Linked DNA regions of Homo sapiens: regions 1 and 2 are each linked to region 3. The links come from fine-mapping of genetic effects on gene expression. A gene starts in region 3. Each other region holds a variant in brackets. All regions are shown on one strand. Distances are from middle to middle.

Region 1 (5,222 bases), 44 kb after region 3:
GTATACAGGAATCCGAGCGGCTGGAACTCATGAACGCAGAGCTGAAGACCCAGATTGAGGAGCTGAAGCAGGAGCGGCAGCAGCTCATCCTGATGCTGAACCGACACCGCCCCACCTGCATCGTCCGGACCGACAGTGTCAAGACCCCCGAGTCAGAAGGCAACCCACTGCTCGAGCAGCTCGAGAAGAAGTGACCATGGGCTGGGAGGAGGTGGAGGAGGAGGAAGAGGAGAAGGAAAAGTGACGAAGAGAGAGGAGGAGGGGGGCCCCAGATGGCCCTTCCTTTGGTGCATGAAAAACTGTACAATGAGGTTCAGCACAGCCAGCATCAGCCGAGCTTTTTTGTGAAACTCAGATCAGCCACCCAGGAGGAAGAGCGGGCTGAGGAAACCCAGAGGGACCAAGCGCTGAGACCAAAGTTGACCCTCGGGTAGGGTTGTCCTGCCTGGGGCCCCACTTGAAGGAGGCAGGACAGAGGCACCGAGGCCAGGGAGACGCCCAACGAGGCAGCCCTGGGCTCTTCTCTGGCCTCTTCACCAGGGCACCCATCCAAGGAACCTCCGAACAGCCAGGAAAAGCCATGAGTTGCAACCAAAACGCGGCTGAGGATGGAACTCAGAATGAAACTGCAACCCACCTGCCCCCAGCCCTGCCCCTCGCCCTGATGCGAAGCTGGAGAGGGGCGTGCTGCGGGGCCCTGATGCCCCCACCCACCTCGGTCCAGCGCGGCCCTGCCCAGGAGGCGGCAGCCGGGCGCACCCTCGCCAGCCCTGCTGGAGTTTGCTGTGGGCACTGAGGCGCGGGCGCCCTTCCAAAGCACATACTCACCGAATGTTTACAGACTGGCTGTCCTGGCAGGGCTTTCAACTGCACATGTTTTTTATACTTTCCTTTTTTTTTTTTTTTTTAATATTTTTTACAAAAAAAAAGATTTTATACAAGCAATATATATATGGATTTCTATAATCACTCGATGTGATACAGTATAAATATGCTATGGTTTGTTTGTTATGAACAGATAGCCACCAGTTACGGCCGTTGTGTGTAACTCCTAAGTACTGTAGTCTCTGGGTGTCGGGGGTGGCCAGGGCGGGGGCGGGGTGCATTTCCATCCTTGTAAACCCTTCATAGTACTCAGTCCTGTATCGCTCAGTAAACATTGCTCTTACTTACATAGCCGCCTTGCGTGGTGTCTGCCTGGGGAATGGGTGCAAGGCCCTCTCAGGGTCGGAGACTGTTTGGAGCCTCTGCTATAGGCCTGTTCATTTTCACAACAGCTCTCCTATTTCACAGATGAGGAAGCTAAGGCTCAGAGACATTAAGCCACCTGCAGTTACTATTTTGAGAGCAGTCAGAGTGTTCGCTCACTCTGCAGATGTTTTCTGAGGGCCTGTTGTGTGTGCCAGGCCCTGAGAATTCACTGGAGGATGAAACAGACCTAAGTCTTGCCCTTGTGGGGCCTCCAGTAAGGAGTGAATCCTGTGCTTGCTCCATAAGTTGTCTCATTTCGTCTTCATGGCAGCCTTGCCAGGGAACAGCACTTGTCCCCAATTCACAGATGGCGAATTAGAGGTCCAGGGAATTAAACTCGCAGACACCATTTGTTGAAGACTTATTTTGTGACAAGCAGACATAGTCTCTTCCCTTCTCACAAGAGCACAAACTAGGCACGATTCTTCTCATTTTACAGATGGTTTAACTGAGGCTCAGAGAAGGTAAGCGACTTATCCAAGGTAACCCAGCTAGCAAGGGATAGAGCTGGTGTTTGAACTCTCCCTCCAGAGGCCTGTGACTCTCCTCCTGTCACCAACCCACTATGATTGTCCTCATGGTTGAATAGGAAGCTTATGAGGCCACAGTTATAGATTTAGTTTCTGGGAAGGCTGGATAGAGTTCCAGGTTGTCCCATGATCACAGAGTGAACCAACTACCCTGGTCAATGTGTGTCTGACCCAGGGAAGGGTGTGGATGGCTTCTCT[G/A]CCCCCTCACCTCGACAGCTGAATCCCTGCCACCCAGGGCCGGAGCAGCTCAGTGGCATTCACTCAGTGCCTGCTGTGTACCTGGCACTCGGCAGTTCTCAAGGCATGTCACGCATGAGGAAGGCGGGAGAGGTGTTTTTAGCTTCCTTGTATACTGAAGCTTGCAAAGGCTACAGTTTACCCAACTAAACTTGACTCCTGCATTCTAATCATGTGTTCTTTCTCCTCCATCCCTGGACTTAGGATAACTAGTTGCTGGTGATGACTTCGTGTCAAGAACAGCAGTGAACCTGGGTTGCTTCCCAAATTGTGGACGAGGCCTTCTGGGATGGGCAGAAGTGGAGAATGGTGATTAACACACCTGTGATCCCTCCCTCGCTCACTCCTCTCAGTTTCCCTCCACCCAACACACTTGGTGTGGACTCCCCTGCACCCCGCCCTAGAAACAGGACCTGGTCCTCTCACTGTCAGCTGTGGCAGAAGGTTGTGGCAGCGGGTTGCCTTCTGTCTCGGGGGTCTTGAGGCTGTCGGTCCGGACGATGCAGGTGAGGCAGTGTCAGTTCTGCATCAGGAACCCCTCGCGCTGTAATCCTTTGATATTTTTCAAGCCATGAGAAAAATGAAGTGGACTTACCAGGGTCCCTCCAGTGACCTAGTGGATGTTCTTACAGGACTGCCGTGTGCCACTGGCTGTGGCTTCCCTGGTCCTGTGCTTGGCCACCGGGAGCTGGCATCTCCAAAATAGAGCCTCCTTAGCCTGTGCAGGTGGGCTGTCTTCCAAAGTCACCACACCAGTGACTTGTGCTGTGCGGAGCCTTCCTCACCAGGACCACTGGCTGCTCCTGTGGCTAGAAGTCACAATTATAGGCTTCATTGCAAGAGCCAGCATTTGAGTTTCTTCTGGGCACCTGCCACTGTGCATGTGTGACCTCAACTGCTTTGTGCACCCTGACTGGGGGGTAGGTGCTAGCGTTCCAACATTACAGATGAGAAAACCGAGGCACACAGAAGAGGTAACCTGCCCAAGGTCACAGGTGTTAGGTGGCAGAGCCAAGATGTTATTGTCAGTCTGACTTCAGGTGCATAAAACCTGAGGCTGAGCCTCCCCATGAGAGGAAAAATGTGTTTGTGGTGTGACCTCAGTTGCCAGGGAACTTGTGCAGGAAGCCGGGAGAGATGGCACAGACCCACCTGTGCTCACAGTACATGTTAAGAATTCCCAAGTCTCAGGCAAACCATCTCCAAGGGTGTTCACAGAAGACACACCTTAAAGGCAAACGGGTTCATGATGTAATCTTCTATTGACTAGCTGTGAACCTCATTTTTCTTATCTGTGAAGTGGGAACAGTAATAATCCAAGTCTTTTTATGGAGTTATCAAGATCAAAAAAGGAATGGATATACAAAGTGTTTTGTGAAATAAAAGCTCCCTAAAATGGTAATTATTTTGTCCTCTGTTAGTGTCGGTAGTTATTGATATCTACATAGTACAGGTTATTTAAATATGTTTTATTCTGTAAAGATGGGCTGCCAAGTTTGTGTTCTGACCCTGTACGTGGTCCCTATGGTGTGATGAATGCCTGGGATCGCAGACTCCTGGATCTGTTCAGCTCCTGACTGGTCACAACCAGCCATGCTGGATGCATCATTCCCTCCCTGGGCCTCAGTGTGCCCTCCTGCCAGGTGGTCACACATAAGACCTGTGCCACCTCTGCCCAGGGTTCCTATGAGAATCAATCGAGTTGATGAATGCAACCATGGCCTGAGAAAGACAAGACGCTTTAGCTATCAGATGGGCAGAAACAAGTATGTGTTGGTAAGAATATGGATTAAAGGTTGGGAGGCCAAGATGGGTGGATCATGAGGTCAGAAGATTGAGACCACCCTGGATAACACGGTGAAACCCTGTCTCTACTAATAATACAAAAAATTAGCCGGGCATGGTGGCACGTGCCTGTAGTCCCAGCTACTCGGGAGGCTGAGGCAGGAGAATCACTTGGACCTGGGAGGTGGAGGTTGCAGTGAGCCAAGATTGCGCCACTGCACTCCAGCCTGGGTGACAGAGCGAGACTCCATCTCAAAAAAAACAAAACAAAAAAAATGTGGATTAAAGGAAACTTAGATATGCTGCCAGTGAGAAACTGTGCAAAGCAATTTGGAAATAACCAGTAAAACTAAAGCTAAACGCATCCTTTGACCTAGCAGTTTTCCTCCTAGTCTTGGGAGGAACTCTAGCACAGGGGCAAAAGGAAATGTACAAGAATGTTCACTGATGGCTTTGTTTGTATTTTTAAAAAGTTGAAAACAACCTAAATGATGATCAGCATAAGAACAAATAAATTGTGGTATTTTCCTAAAATTGAATATTACTCAACAGGTAAAAAAGAATGAACCAGAGCTATATGTATCAATATGGATAAATCTCAGAAACCTACTGTTGAGATGGAGGGTAGGGGAGTGAACTGCGGAAGGATACCACTTATGTCATATTTCTAACTAAATGTATACGTTGATACTTTATTGTTTATGGCTACACACACATCTGGGTAATAGAGGTATAAAAGCCTGCACAAGAATGCTGTCAATATCACAATCAGTCATAGGGAGTGCTCCTGGGAGGGCCGCGGAGAGGAGGGAACTAGGGATGCCACTGCAAGGGTAAGTAGGACGCTGGACTTCAACTTCAACTATACACATAACATTTCATTTATTTTTTTAAAATCCCCATCAAATGTAGAATGACAGGATTTTTCAGAGGTGGGTGATGTGTGCACAGATGTGGGCTATCTTCTCCACACTCCTCTGTATATTTGATATTCTTTGCAATAAAAGAGAACAAGCCACAATACAAATAGGAGGTTTTGTTTTTATTATTGCCTTAGCAAACTCAGGAAATAAAAACAAATCTGAAATTACAATGGGATTGCAGCATATGCTCTTTGAATTTATGCAAATTTAATTATATGCCTGAAGGGAGAGAGAGAGACAATTCAAAGGGTGGAAAGAGGTTAGCTGGTTGAGCCCTGCGGGAGGGTGCCCCGGGGTGAGGACACCTTGAGGAATGTTGTTCTGCTCTACACTCAGTGGATCCTGGTCCCTGCTCTCTACGGGAGGGGCAATTAAGGCGTGTTCAAGGTTCATCTGGACTCTAGACTTCTTCCTTACATGCTGACTTTTCAATCCAAGCCCTGCTCGAAAGCCAACTGTACTGCGCCTACAAGTGGAGCTCTGGACTGGAAGGCAA
Region 2 (5,222 bases), 29 kb before region 3:
GAGGCAGATCTCCTGCGGTTGATTCCTAGCTGTGCCCTTAACTAACTGTGTGACCTTGGTCATGTGATGCCTCAATTTCTAAATCTGTAAAATAGGAACAATCACAATTTTACAACTGTAAAATAGAGCTGTTGAGAGGACTGAATGAAGTAACGTGTTGGCTGTGATTAGGACAGATGATGGGGATGACGGTGATGCTGACCATGTCCTTTGGCATAAGGCACATCAGTGATTGCCCCCAGGTTGTTGATGGATACTTCTGATGCTACCCACCCAGCTCATAGGTAGCATGGGAAGTCACCCAAAGAGATGAGTCTCCGACAGCCTGTGTAAAGTATGTGACCTTGCCACCTGGTTTCCATAAACCAAGGTGAACAGTTGCCCAAGGCTTGGTCAATCAGATTATTAGAATTTTGATGACCAAGAGATAGCCAGTTGGTTTGATATGGTGCCCTGAGTGGAAGAGATACAAATGAGGAAGTGTTGGGCCAGGCACAGTGGCTCGCACCTGTAATCCCAGCACTTTGGGAGGCCGAGGTGGGTGGATCACTTGAGCCCAGGAGTTAGAGATCAGTCTGGCCAATATGGCGAAACCCCGTCTCTACTAAAAATACAAAAAAATTAGCCAGGCTTGGTGGCGCGTGCCTGAGTCCCAGCTCCTTAGGAAGCTGAGGCACGAGAATTGCTTGAACCCAGGAGGCAGAGGTTGCAGTCAGCCAAGATGGCGCCACTGCACTCCACATTCCAGCCTGGGCGACAGAGCAAGACTCTGTCTTAAAAAAAAAAAAAAAAGAAAGAAAGTGCATGTGTGAGTGTGTAGGTGGGGTGAGGTTGGGGGACTGAGAAGAAAAGCAGCTTGGTTTGCAGAGAGGAGAAAAAAACAGAGCTGCAGATTCAAAATGCAGAGATACTGCCTGGTTCCCAGTGCCTTTCCAGTTCTTGGGCTTCTATTCCTGGAGAAAGCCTGCTGGCCCTGGCTTCCATGGATATCCCAGGATTCTTCCAGGAAGCTTTCTTTGGTATTGCCTGAACAAGTTCAAGATGGCTTCTGCTGACTAAGGCATGGGTTAACACAGCCCTATCGGAAAATCTTCACGGAGAACTGCACCCCAAGCAGGTGGACATTCTCCTTTTTCTCCTTCAGATCAATGGACAATTTGAAAGTGTATGTATTGTATTTCTCCTGGAGGTCCAAATACAAAACCCCTCTCTGAAGCCTTTCAAGAAGGCTTGGTATGGCTGAAATGTGGTTCTCTGCTGCTGATAAAAGTGATCATGTACCTGTGGGTGGTCTGCTGCCTTAGCTAGGTACTGAAGCCTGGATCCCAGAGACATTCCTTTCAGACTTCCTGAGCACCTCCTGATTCCTGTTCTCATTCCTTCTGGGCTGACCCATGCTCTGTGCTGAGCTTTATACCTATTCTGGTTGCAGATAAGGTAATTTAACAAATAAGGTGAGAGATTCCAGTGAGCAAAAGACAGACAGACAGACAGACAGAGCCAGAGGCAGAGTTAGAGTCTAGACCTTGGTGGGTGAGTGTGAGCTCAGTTTCTAATCATCTCTCAGCTTTACATGGCTCAGTAATCTGATATTATCAGTTCAGACAGAGGGGACAAGGCCCAGGGAAGCACTGTCCAACAGAAATATAGTGTGAGCCATAAATGTAACTTAAAATTTTCTAGTAGTAACATTTTAAAAAGTAAAAAGCATATGTTAACCCAATATAGCTAAACCATTATTATTTCAACATGTAATTAATATAATTTTTTTAAGAGAGACAGAGTCTTGCTCTGTTGCCCAGGCTGGAGTACAGTGGCGTGATCATAGCTCATTGCAGCCTCAACCTCCTGGCTTCAGGTGATCCTCCCACCTCAGTCTCCCAAGTACCTTGGACTATGGGTACACATCACTGTGCCAGCTAATTTTTTTTTTTAGAAATGGTATCTTGTTATGTTGCCCAACTTTAAGAGACAAGCGAGACGTCATCTCTAAAAAAAAAAAAAAAAAAAAAAGAGAGAGAGAGAGAGAGAAATGCATTTCTCTTATGTAAATGCTTAGGTAGGTCTTGAGGGCTACTGATATGGCTCTTTGTGCAATATTTAACCCAAGTTCCTTCTATCTGTTGGTCCACCATGCATGGGCTATATTTCCAAATTCCACAACAGTCCAAGATGACTGCTCCAGCTCCAGCCAGTGCGACCACCTTCCAGCCTGCAGAAAAGGAAAAGGGAAGAAGGACACACTACCACCTTTTCATGGCACTTCCAAAAAGTTACACACATATTACTTTTATTTACATCCATTTGTCGGGATTTAGTCATATGGCCCTATCTAGCTGCAAGGGAGGCTGAGAAATGTACTCTGTGTTCTAGGTGACCAAGTCGCTGGCTAAAATTCAGGGATTCTGTGACTAAGGAAGAAAATAGCGAGGAAGCAACTGATAGTGTTGGTCTCAGAGACCAAACCATGCTAATGAAATGCAGATTCTCTGGTAAACCAGAAGGCCAAGTTATTCAAGAACAGTAAGACTATAATTGTCAGCCAGATGAGAGTGCCTGAGTTGGCTGACCATTTCAATCTCTTCCCAGTAGGCTAGTCTAAATGGTTAGAAGATTAATGGATCGGACTATGAGAGCCTGATAGGTCCCTTTCCATTTCAGGACCTACAAACCTGCCAGGAGAACTAAAACATTCCTGCCAGCCTGGGAGGGAGCCCTTTTTCTGGGATGATGCTAGAGATGCTTGGACAAACTCTGGCCCCTCAACATTTCTTTACCTGAACCCATCCTAGCTTTATACACTACAATTCTACTTATATTTGTTACATTTTAGATGTTGGGAAGAGATTTTGAAGACATACTAGCTCTTTGTTGTGAACTTGGGATTTGCTATTGTCTCATCAGCAGTGTTCATTAACTTGATAAACATTTATTGAGCACCTACTTTTTGCCAGGTATTGCATTATGCTAGGAGTGAATAAGAACCTGTCCTTAAGTTGACTGCAGTATCTAAAGAATAGGGAAAGTGATGGGCAAGCATTTGAGAAATGAGTAGGCATTCACTGAGCAAGAGGAATGAAAAGCCATCCCAGGTGAAGGGAAGGCATGTGCAAAGGCTTGGGAGACACCAAAGAACATGACGTGTTTGGGAAAAAGAAGTAGCTGGGTGGGGCTTGTCGGGAGGAGATGCTGGAAGGGTGGCCTCTTCAGCATCCATTC[T/C]CTCTCAGTAACTACCCCATTTTCCTTGGGGTATCCACCCTCCCTACACTTCCCATATTTTTTGGAGGAAGTCGACTCCACCCTGGCCTAGGCTTGGGGTAAATAGCCCCAGTATAGACTAATCAGCAAAATCCCTTCTTGCCTGCAGATGGGCAAATGACCCAATTCTGACCTGAGAGACTGGAGAAGACTTTGCTGGCAGGTTCAGGGAAAGAAGCTCTCTCCCTTTCTCCTTCTATACAGCATGGAGCATAGGTGTGAAAACAGGAATTGTGGCAGCCGTTTTCTCACCATGAGAAAAGCCTGCCTGAGCATGAAGACAACACCATGGAGGGCAGAGAGGAAAACACCAAGAAGAAGAAGGGGTTTTGATGACATTGTGGTGCTATTGAGTCAAACCTACACTGAAGCCTCCTTGAGCCCTCGGCTTTAGGCAGCTTGGGGCTGCAATGTGAAGGACCTTGGGGCTTAGCTTTTATTCTGGGGCAATGGGAAACAATAGACAGCTTCAAGGAGGGGGGCAAGCCCACTGGACCTGAATTGTAGGAAGTTGTCTGCAGTGCTGAGTGCAAAGAGCCTGGGCCAAAGCCAGAAATGAGGACCTGAGCCAAGACAGGAGAAGAGGAAAGAGTCTGAGAGCCACTTGGGTGACAGAAGCCAGACTAACTGGATTAAGAGGGCATGAGGAAGAGGGTGTGTGCTTTAGGAAGAGGCTAAAACTCTTAGCCTGACTACATGAATGGAGAAACTCCCCTTCCCCCTTCTTTTGCCTCTATCACTGTCCCCCTGGGAAATCATGTCCACTGCCAAACCCTGTATTCTCCTCTTCTGCAGATTCATGCCTCTGATTACAATTCTTTATGGGCATGCCTGGTCCTTTGGAGCAGGGACCATGCCTCGTCATCTTCACATCCCCAGGGACTAGCCTGGCACATGGTTGGCACCGGGTCAAGGCTGACTTGGATTGAGTTCTCGCTGAGCTAGGCATGAGCTGCACCCTCCCCCTGCCCCCAGGGCTTAGTCATCTGTTTCATAAGCAGCTTCCAAAAGCTGCAGCCCCAATACCCAGCTTCCTTGTTGTTGGCAGGTGTTGGCAGCCCTGAGTGCCAGAACGCCAGGGAGCCAGCCACTGGGAACATGCTAGGGTGGTGAGCAGGAGCCAACTAATCAGGGCTCATATACATTTACGAGAGGCGTGTGTGTGCTCCCCAGGAGAGCTGTAACGACACTCCCTTTCCAGGAAACACAAACCAGGCCTCTTTCCTTTCTTTTTTCTCACCTGTCCTGTCTTGTGGCCAGAAGCACATTCATTGGCTTTCCATGCTTCTAAAATAAATCAAATTGGGGGCCACACCCTTCCAAGCTACTTTAGGTTTGCTCCGTGGAAGCTTTAACCCCTTATCATCCCACCAGGCCTGAAATGCTTGGGTTCCAATTTACAAAAATATTAACTTTTTATGTCCTTTCAGAAGAAGGATCTCAGTTTTCCTGATGTCTGCTCCCCTGCCCTGGAATTTCTCCCTCTGCTCATAATTCATCCCAAGGATGTTGACTTCTGTGTTTTGGGATGGTCAGGGGCTAAGTGGCATGGAGGGCAAATAGATTAACCTTTTACCAACTTTCCAAAGCCCTTCCTCCTTGTTCTTTTTTGTTTTTGTTTTTTTGAGATGGAGTCTCACTCTGTCACCCAGGCTGGAGTGCAGCAGCATGATCTCATCTCATTGCAACTTCCGCCTCCCAGGTTCAAGTGATTCTCCTGCCTCAGCCTCCTGAGTAGCTGGGACTACAGGCGCATGCCACCACGCCCAGATAATTTCTGTATTTTTAGTAGAGATGGGGTTTTGCCATGTTGGCCAGGCTGGTCTCAAACTCCTGACCTCATGATCCACCCACCTCGGCCTACCAAAGTGCTGAGATTACAGGCGTGAGCCACTGCGCCTGGCCCTTCCTTGTTCTTTTTATCTCGGCCTCCTCTGGGCTTTTGGAAGGCCTCTTCTTTCTCT
Region 3 (5,222 bases):
CTTTTCCTCCCATTAGCTTCACTCTCAGTAGTTCCCTTTCACGTGGGGCTTCTGGCAGCTTCTCTTTCCAGCAGATCCACAAAATTCCCAGTCTTGTGAGATTTTCTTGGGATATGTGACGATCTCTCAATCAGCCCATTGACTAGGGCTGGGCGTGTTAATCAGGACTTTTCTAGTTGTGATAGGAAACTTAAATTCAAACTGCCTTAGGCTGAGTCACTTGTCTGTCCCTAAGAGCCAGTGGTAAATCAGCTCCATCCAGCATCCAATGTCTGCATAAAGGACCCAGTTTATGGCTTCTCCCTCTAGCCACTCCCAGAGGCAGTGACTACGTAGAGGGGCCTAGTAGGGAGTATGTGGCGGAAGGGAGGCCTTGAAGCTGTGTTCTTATAGCGTCCTATATGAAACTGAAAAGCATCAATAGCAAATAACAGAGAAGATCTAATGGAGATTATAGAGAGGTAGAGGGGACTAAAGGCCTCCCAAGTCACCCCTTGGTGCCACCCCTGTAACATATTTAATTTGTGGGGGAAGCAAAGGCCCAGTAGGACTGCTGGTGGCCCAGCCACAGTCCAAAACAGGCCCTAGAGAGGACGCGCTCTAACCACACACCCTAATTATTAGTCCCTGAATATAGATCAGTTTAGTTTATCCAAAGCCCCAGCTGAAGACACATCAAGTACTATTGCCTCTGTTCCATGTTTTGTTCCATATAAACATCCAGACACAGGTCTCATGGGAGAAACATCATGAGGCAGTTTCACAGTCCCTGGCTTTGATCTTTACGCTGTAGTAAAGGTGTCATTGGCCTTTCTGGGGCGAAGAGTCATGCTCTTCCACAAGAGTATCAAATTACTGCTCATTTTCCAATGTATATTCTTTCAGGGCCTTGCTTTCTTCTTACCTGCCCACACCAATGCTGTGAGGGAGACTGCTGATGGCGAAGGTGAAAATGGTCAGGCAATGTCATTGGGACTTGGTCTGTCTCTCCTTCCATTAGCCCACTTCTTTTATCCAGAAAGATTTCACTGCACTGGGGAAATAAGGAGAATAAAGTCTCATGCACTCACTCACATGAGAGAGACATGCATGTTCGGGTTTGCTCAATGGCACCCATCTGTCTCAAGTCTTGTTGTTTCTTTCACTCTGAGCATCTGCACTCCAAGAAGGCATGAACTTTTTCTTTCACTTCCTTTCTTCTATGGGTGATGACCTGACATCACTCTCAGAAGGAGGCCGAAAGTCGCTGAGTATAAAAATCGTCACTCCTATCTGGCTTAGGCAGAAGGTAGGGGGCTCGATGGGTACCCAGGAGCTCTGGAGGTAGGAGATGCCATCTAGGGAACCCCGTTCTACCTGAGGGCTCTGTGTCTCTGCCTTTGTATACTGGAGGGCACCATGGATGTCGCCTTCCCTCTGGAGTCCCCTTCACCATTTCCTCTCTAGAAGGATGGAAGGTGGGAGTGGGGTTGGCTATTGAAGCTGGAACGGGGAAGAAGGCCACTTGGGGTCTGCTGAGGGCTGGGTCTGCTCACTGCTGTGTCCGGAGTGGAAAGGAGAAGCCCGCTGGAGCAGGGTACAAGCCCAAGGGTCAAACTGCGCCAGCAGTAGAGCAAGCCGCGGTCTCAGGCTGCAGCCCTAGCAGAGGTCAGGCTGGTGCAGCCAGCCGTCTCGGGGCCTAAGGGCGCTGGCGGGGGCCGGTGGGTAGGGGTAGGAGTCCCCAAATGCCTTCATCTCAGCCCATCCTTCTCCACCGAAAAATAAAGCAGGCTGGCGAGATCGCCTCCTCACCCGCTCAGTCCTGAAGTGTCCAAGGATGAAACTGTGCGGAAATTCTCCCTGTCGCTCTCAGTTTGTGGGGGAAGCGCCGGGACTGAGGTACATGGTTAACACAGGCTGTGCGTGAAGGGGCTTTTGACTTTTCCCCCGGCTCCGGCCTCTCGCGTCTCTCTCCTAGGGCTGCGGCTGCTGCTGCCTGGCGGGCACAAGCCGGGCGGCGGTGCGCGGGGGGTGCGCTTACATAACCGCTCGCCGCGTCCTGCTTTCTCGAGCGCTCCTGCACCGTGGGGTGGCGGAGCCGGGGGACTGCATGGAACCCGGGACGCCCCCGCGGGGAGAGGAGCGCGAGCGGCCGCGGGAGGAGGGCGCCCAAGGCGGCGGGGGAGGTTAAGGTCAGTGGGTGTGAAGCGCCGGCTCCACACCCCCTCCTCCCCGGTCCCCTCCTTCCCTTCCTCTCCGTCCCCCTCTGACGTCTGGAGCTGGCAGCTCGGCCGGTTCCGCATTCCCGACCCCTCCCCGCCGCCCAGGGGCCGCTATATAGCCGGGGCTGATGCAACCCGTCCCGCCGCCCGCCACAGCCTGCGGGAGGGACGCTCGGCGGCCGCGACGGGGGGCGCTGGCGGCGGCGGACGCTGCAGCGGCGGCGGGGCTGGCGCCGCGGCGGCTCCCGGGCCGGGACAGGCCTGGGCACCGGGCGGAGCTCCGCGGCCGGGCGGCAGCGGCGCGGAGCGGGCACGGCGCCTGCAGCCGGGCCCCGGCCCCGGGGGCGCCGCCTCCCCCCGCACCTTCTGCACGGTGGGTGCGAGGGCGCGCGCTGGGGGCGCCGGGACGGGCGGGGCGGGGCAGGGCGCGGCGCGGGCACCTGGGACGGCCGCCCCCGCACGGGCGGAGCGCGAGGAGCCCCAGCCCAGCCCCGCGGGGAGGCTCCCGCAGCCCAGGGACCTCGAGCTTTCCCCGCGCCGGGCGCTGCAGCCGGGCCCCTCCCGCGAGGCGCCCGGCAGCCTGAGGCTTCCTTTTGGTTCCCGCCCCGGGACGGGAGGCTCCGTCCGCTCCCTGGACAGCCGGGGTGCTCCCTCCTTCTCCCTCCCGCGCTCTCCTCCCCCGTCCGTTTGCAGGGAGGTGCTCTCCTCGGGCGGCGGGGAAGGCGGGGTGAGTGGGGAGAAAAGTGCCCGCGGAGATGGGCTGTGCGGGTGGAGGTGGAGGGTGAAGGGCCAGGGAGGTGCGGGGTTGGGGTCGGGGTTAGATTGTGGAGGGATGACAAGGACCTCCTGGCAGTGAGGAAGCGCGACTCCCGGAGGACCCGGACCCGGAGGAGAGTATTGAGAAGGGCTCGGGATTTCCATCCAATGAAGGCAGCTTCTCTCATGGCCATTGCTTCGGAGCTCTGGGCTGGGAGGGGATCTAGGGGTGGCCGGGGTCCCCTTTGGGCTCTCCTGTCTCCCACGCCAGGTTATATAAGGAGGCAAGCAGGCTCCTGTAGGTAACCAGCCTCTCCCTTGCCCAGCCCAGCTTAGAAGGCTCTCCTCTGCTCCTCCCTTCAAAGGAGGTTGTCGAGGGGTAGGGGTGCAGTGGGGGGTGGGAGAGTGTAGGGGTGGATTGGGCCTTCCACCTGGATCCCTGGACCCTGGGATGGCAGAGCCAGGCTTTGCCTGGGTCAGTAGGAGGAGCAGGGAAGATGAGGAGGCTGGGGAAGATGGGGAGGTCCTGGCTCTTTTGCAGGGATGGAGAGGCTGGTGGAAGGAGAAATCAGCCGACCCCCTTGGGTCATCTCCAGTTGCAAGATGGCGTGGCCCTTGCCCAGGGTGCTGCCCTCCCTGTTGGAATCCAGGGCATGGGGCTATGGCCCGACCACGTGTGCTCAGGGCAAATGTGCTCAGGTCTATATCTCAGAAAGGGCTTGCAGCCTGCTTAGGCGTGTGTACCCAGGCTTAAATCTTGGTGGTCTCTCCCTAGGGTCTTAATTGGAGGAGCATCAGGAATTGGGAAGCTTTGAACCATGTTTGGGTACATTTGTACCCAAACGTCCTTTAAGCCCTTGGTAGAAACTGCATTCGCGTATCATCTCCCTTCCCCCCAACCTTCCTTCCCTGAGGGTTTTAAAAAACACTTCCCATTGCTTTTACCTTTCCAGCAAATCTGGCTGCAGCTTGGATGGATAGCTTATCTTCCTTTGCAGGTTTCTAGGGGAGAGTTTAACCAGGTATCAGGTGTGAGCATGGCTCTGATTTTGTATAAACCTGAGGATCGAGGAAGAGAAGCAAAATCTATTCTCACACCTCTGGGTGGTTAAGGTTTTGCCTTGTTTAGAGCAGGGAGGATGGATTTCTCAAAGACTCTTCTGTTCCCTTCTACTTTGGCTTTGGTTCAGAGCTGCAGGCAGCTCCAGAATCTTCCTGAAGAGCTGGGTGCTGTGTGATTTGAAGGGCTGCAGGAAGTCATGGGTGTGTAGACCTCTGGCTTTTCTCCTAGGTGGGCTGCAGGAAGTCATGGGTGTGTAGACCTCTGGCTTTTCTCCTAGGTTGGCTGCAGCCACCTCCAAGGAGATGTGTTGCAAAGTGGTGACAATGCCCCCTAGGAAGGGTTTGGATAAGGGTCTCCCCACTCATCCACTGCCTAACTTTTGCAGCTACCAGGGAATGCTCCTCCTGACTCCCTGGGTTTGTTGTCATCTCCCTACCTGTTTGTAGGATGTGTGGGCATTTTTTTCCAACCTGCAGAATCCCTGGCAGGAATAGGCTCTCTGGGCCTTGTTTGTCGTGGGGCTACTGGTGTTGCAATGGGCTGTCTCTCTCGAGTGTCTGTTTCCAGCTCCACTCTGGAAAGAAAGGGGCCAACGCCGACTCTAGGCCGGCCTGCTCTGTATTCATTCAGCTCCAGCTCAACTTGAGCAATCAGAGCCAGGGTTGAGGGCAAGCTACATTCTTTTCTGCCTTTCTGCTGCAGGATGCAGTTTGCTTTTTTTCCATGCGAATGAATTATGTTTGAAACCGAAATGGGAGGAAGAGAAAAATGGAGTGAGTGTATATGGGTATGTGTGTGTGCATACCTATATAGGCAGGGGAGGGCAGCAGGCACATTATTTTTCCATTTTCCTTTAATTAAGGCTCTGTGGAGGTGTGTTTGAAAACAGAGGGTCTCCTATGCCTTTGAGGAGGGTGAGAACACTGTTTTGGCTGCGTCCCGGGCCATATGCAGCGTATGGTGGCCAATGAAACCGGGCCTGGCTCATTCTGTTGCTTGTCTTGGCAGTCGGTTCCGTGGCTTGTATTACCAGCTCTGGAACTTAGGGGCTGCCAAGCTCCATGTGCCTGTGTATGTGTGTGTGCGTGTGCATGTGTGTGCACATGCGTTCTTGTGTGTGTGTGTGGTTTGGCCTCTCGGAACTCAGCAGAGACAAATGCCTTAGCGACCCAGTCTTGGAATTTTCAGACTGTGTTTCTTTA

The links. PIP is the estimated chance that this variant, and not a neighbour inherited with it, causes the effect.
Region 1: its variant is fine-mapped to the expression of JDP2 in whole blood (TOPMed, PIP above 0.99).
Region 2: its variant is fine-mapped to the expression of JDP2 in blood mononuclear cells (TOPMed, PIP above 0.99). The same link has a PIP of 0.9 or more in whole blood.

Annotation. Positions count from the first base shown.
Region 1 is chr14:75,469,282-75,474,503 of GRCh38, forward strand. JDP2 (Jun dimerization protein 2) reads left to right here. Exons shown (of 4, transcript NM_001135048.2): 4 at 9-4,826. The coding sequence ends at 194. Among named protein-coding and RNA genes, the nearest start is that of JDP2, 44 kb to the left of the region's middle. RefSeq lists an enhancer at 5,033-5,222. The variant G/A (reference allele first, on the strand shown) is at 1,980.
Region 2 is chr14:75,396,197-75,401,418 of GRCh38, forward strand. No RefSeq gene overlaps it. Among named protein-coding and RNA genes, the nearest start is that of JDP2-AS1, 29 kb to the right of the region's middle. The variant T/C (reference allele first, on the strand shown) is at 3,220.
Region 3 is chr14:75,425,679-75,430,900 of GRCh38, forward strand. It overlaps JDP2 (Jun dimerization protein 2), which reads left to right and starts at 2,344. Exons shown (of 4, transcript NM_001135048.2): 1 at 2,344-2,574. It overlaps JDP2-AS1 (JDP2 antisense RNA 1), which reads right to left and starts at 1,977. Exons shown (of 2, transcript NR_184172.1): 1 at 1,792-1,977; 2 at 1-1,033. RefSeq lists enhancers at 1,113-1,212, 1,463-1,792, 1,813-1,872, 1,840-2,397 and silencers at 2,063-2,332, 2,583-2,762, 2,823-2,992.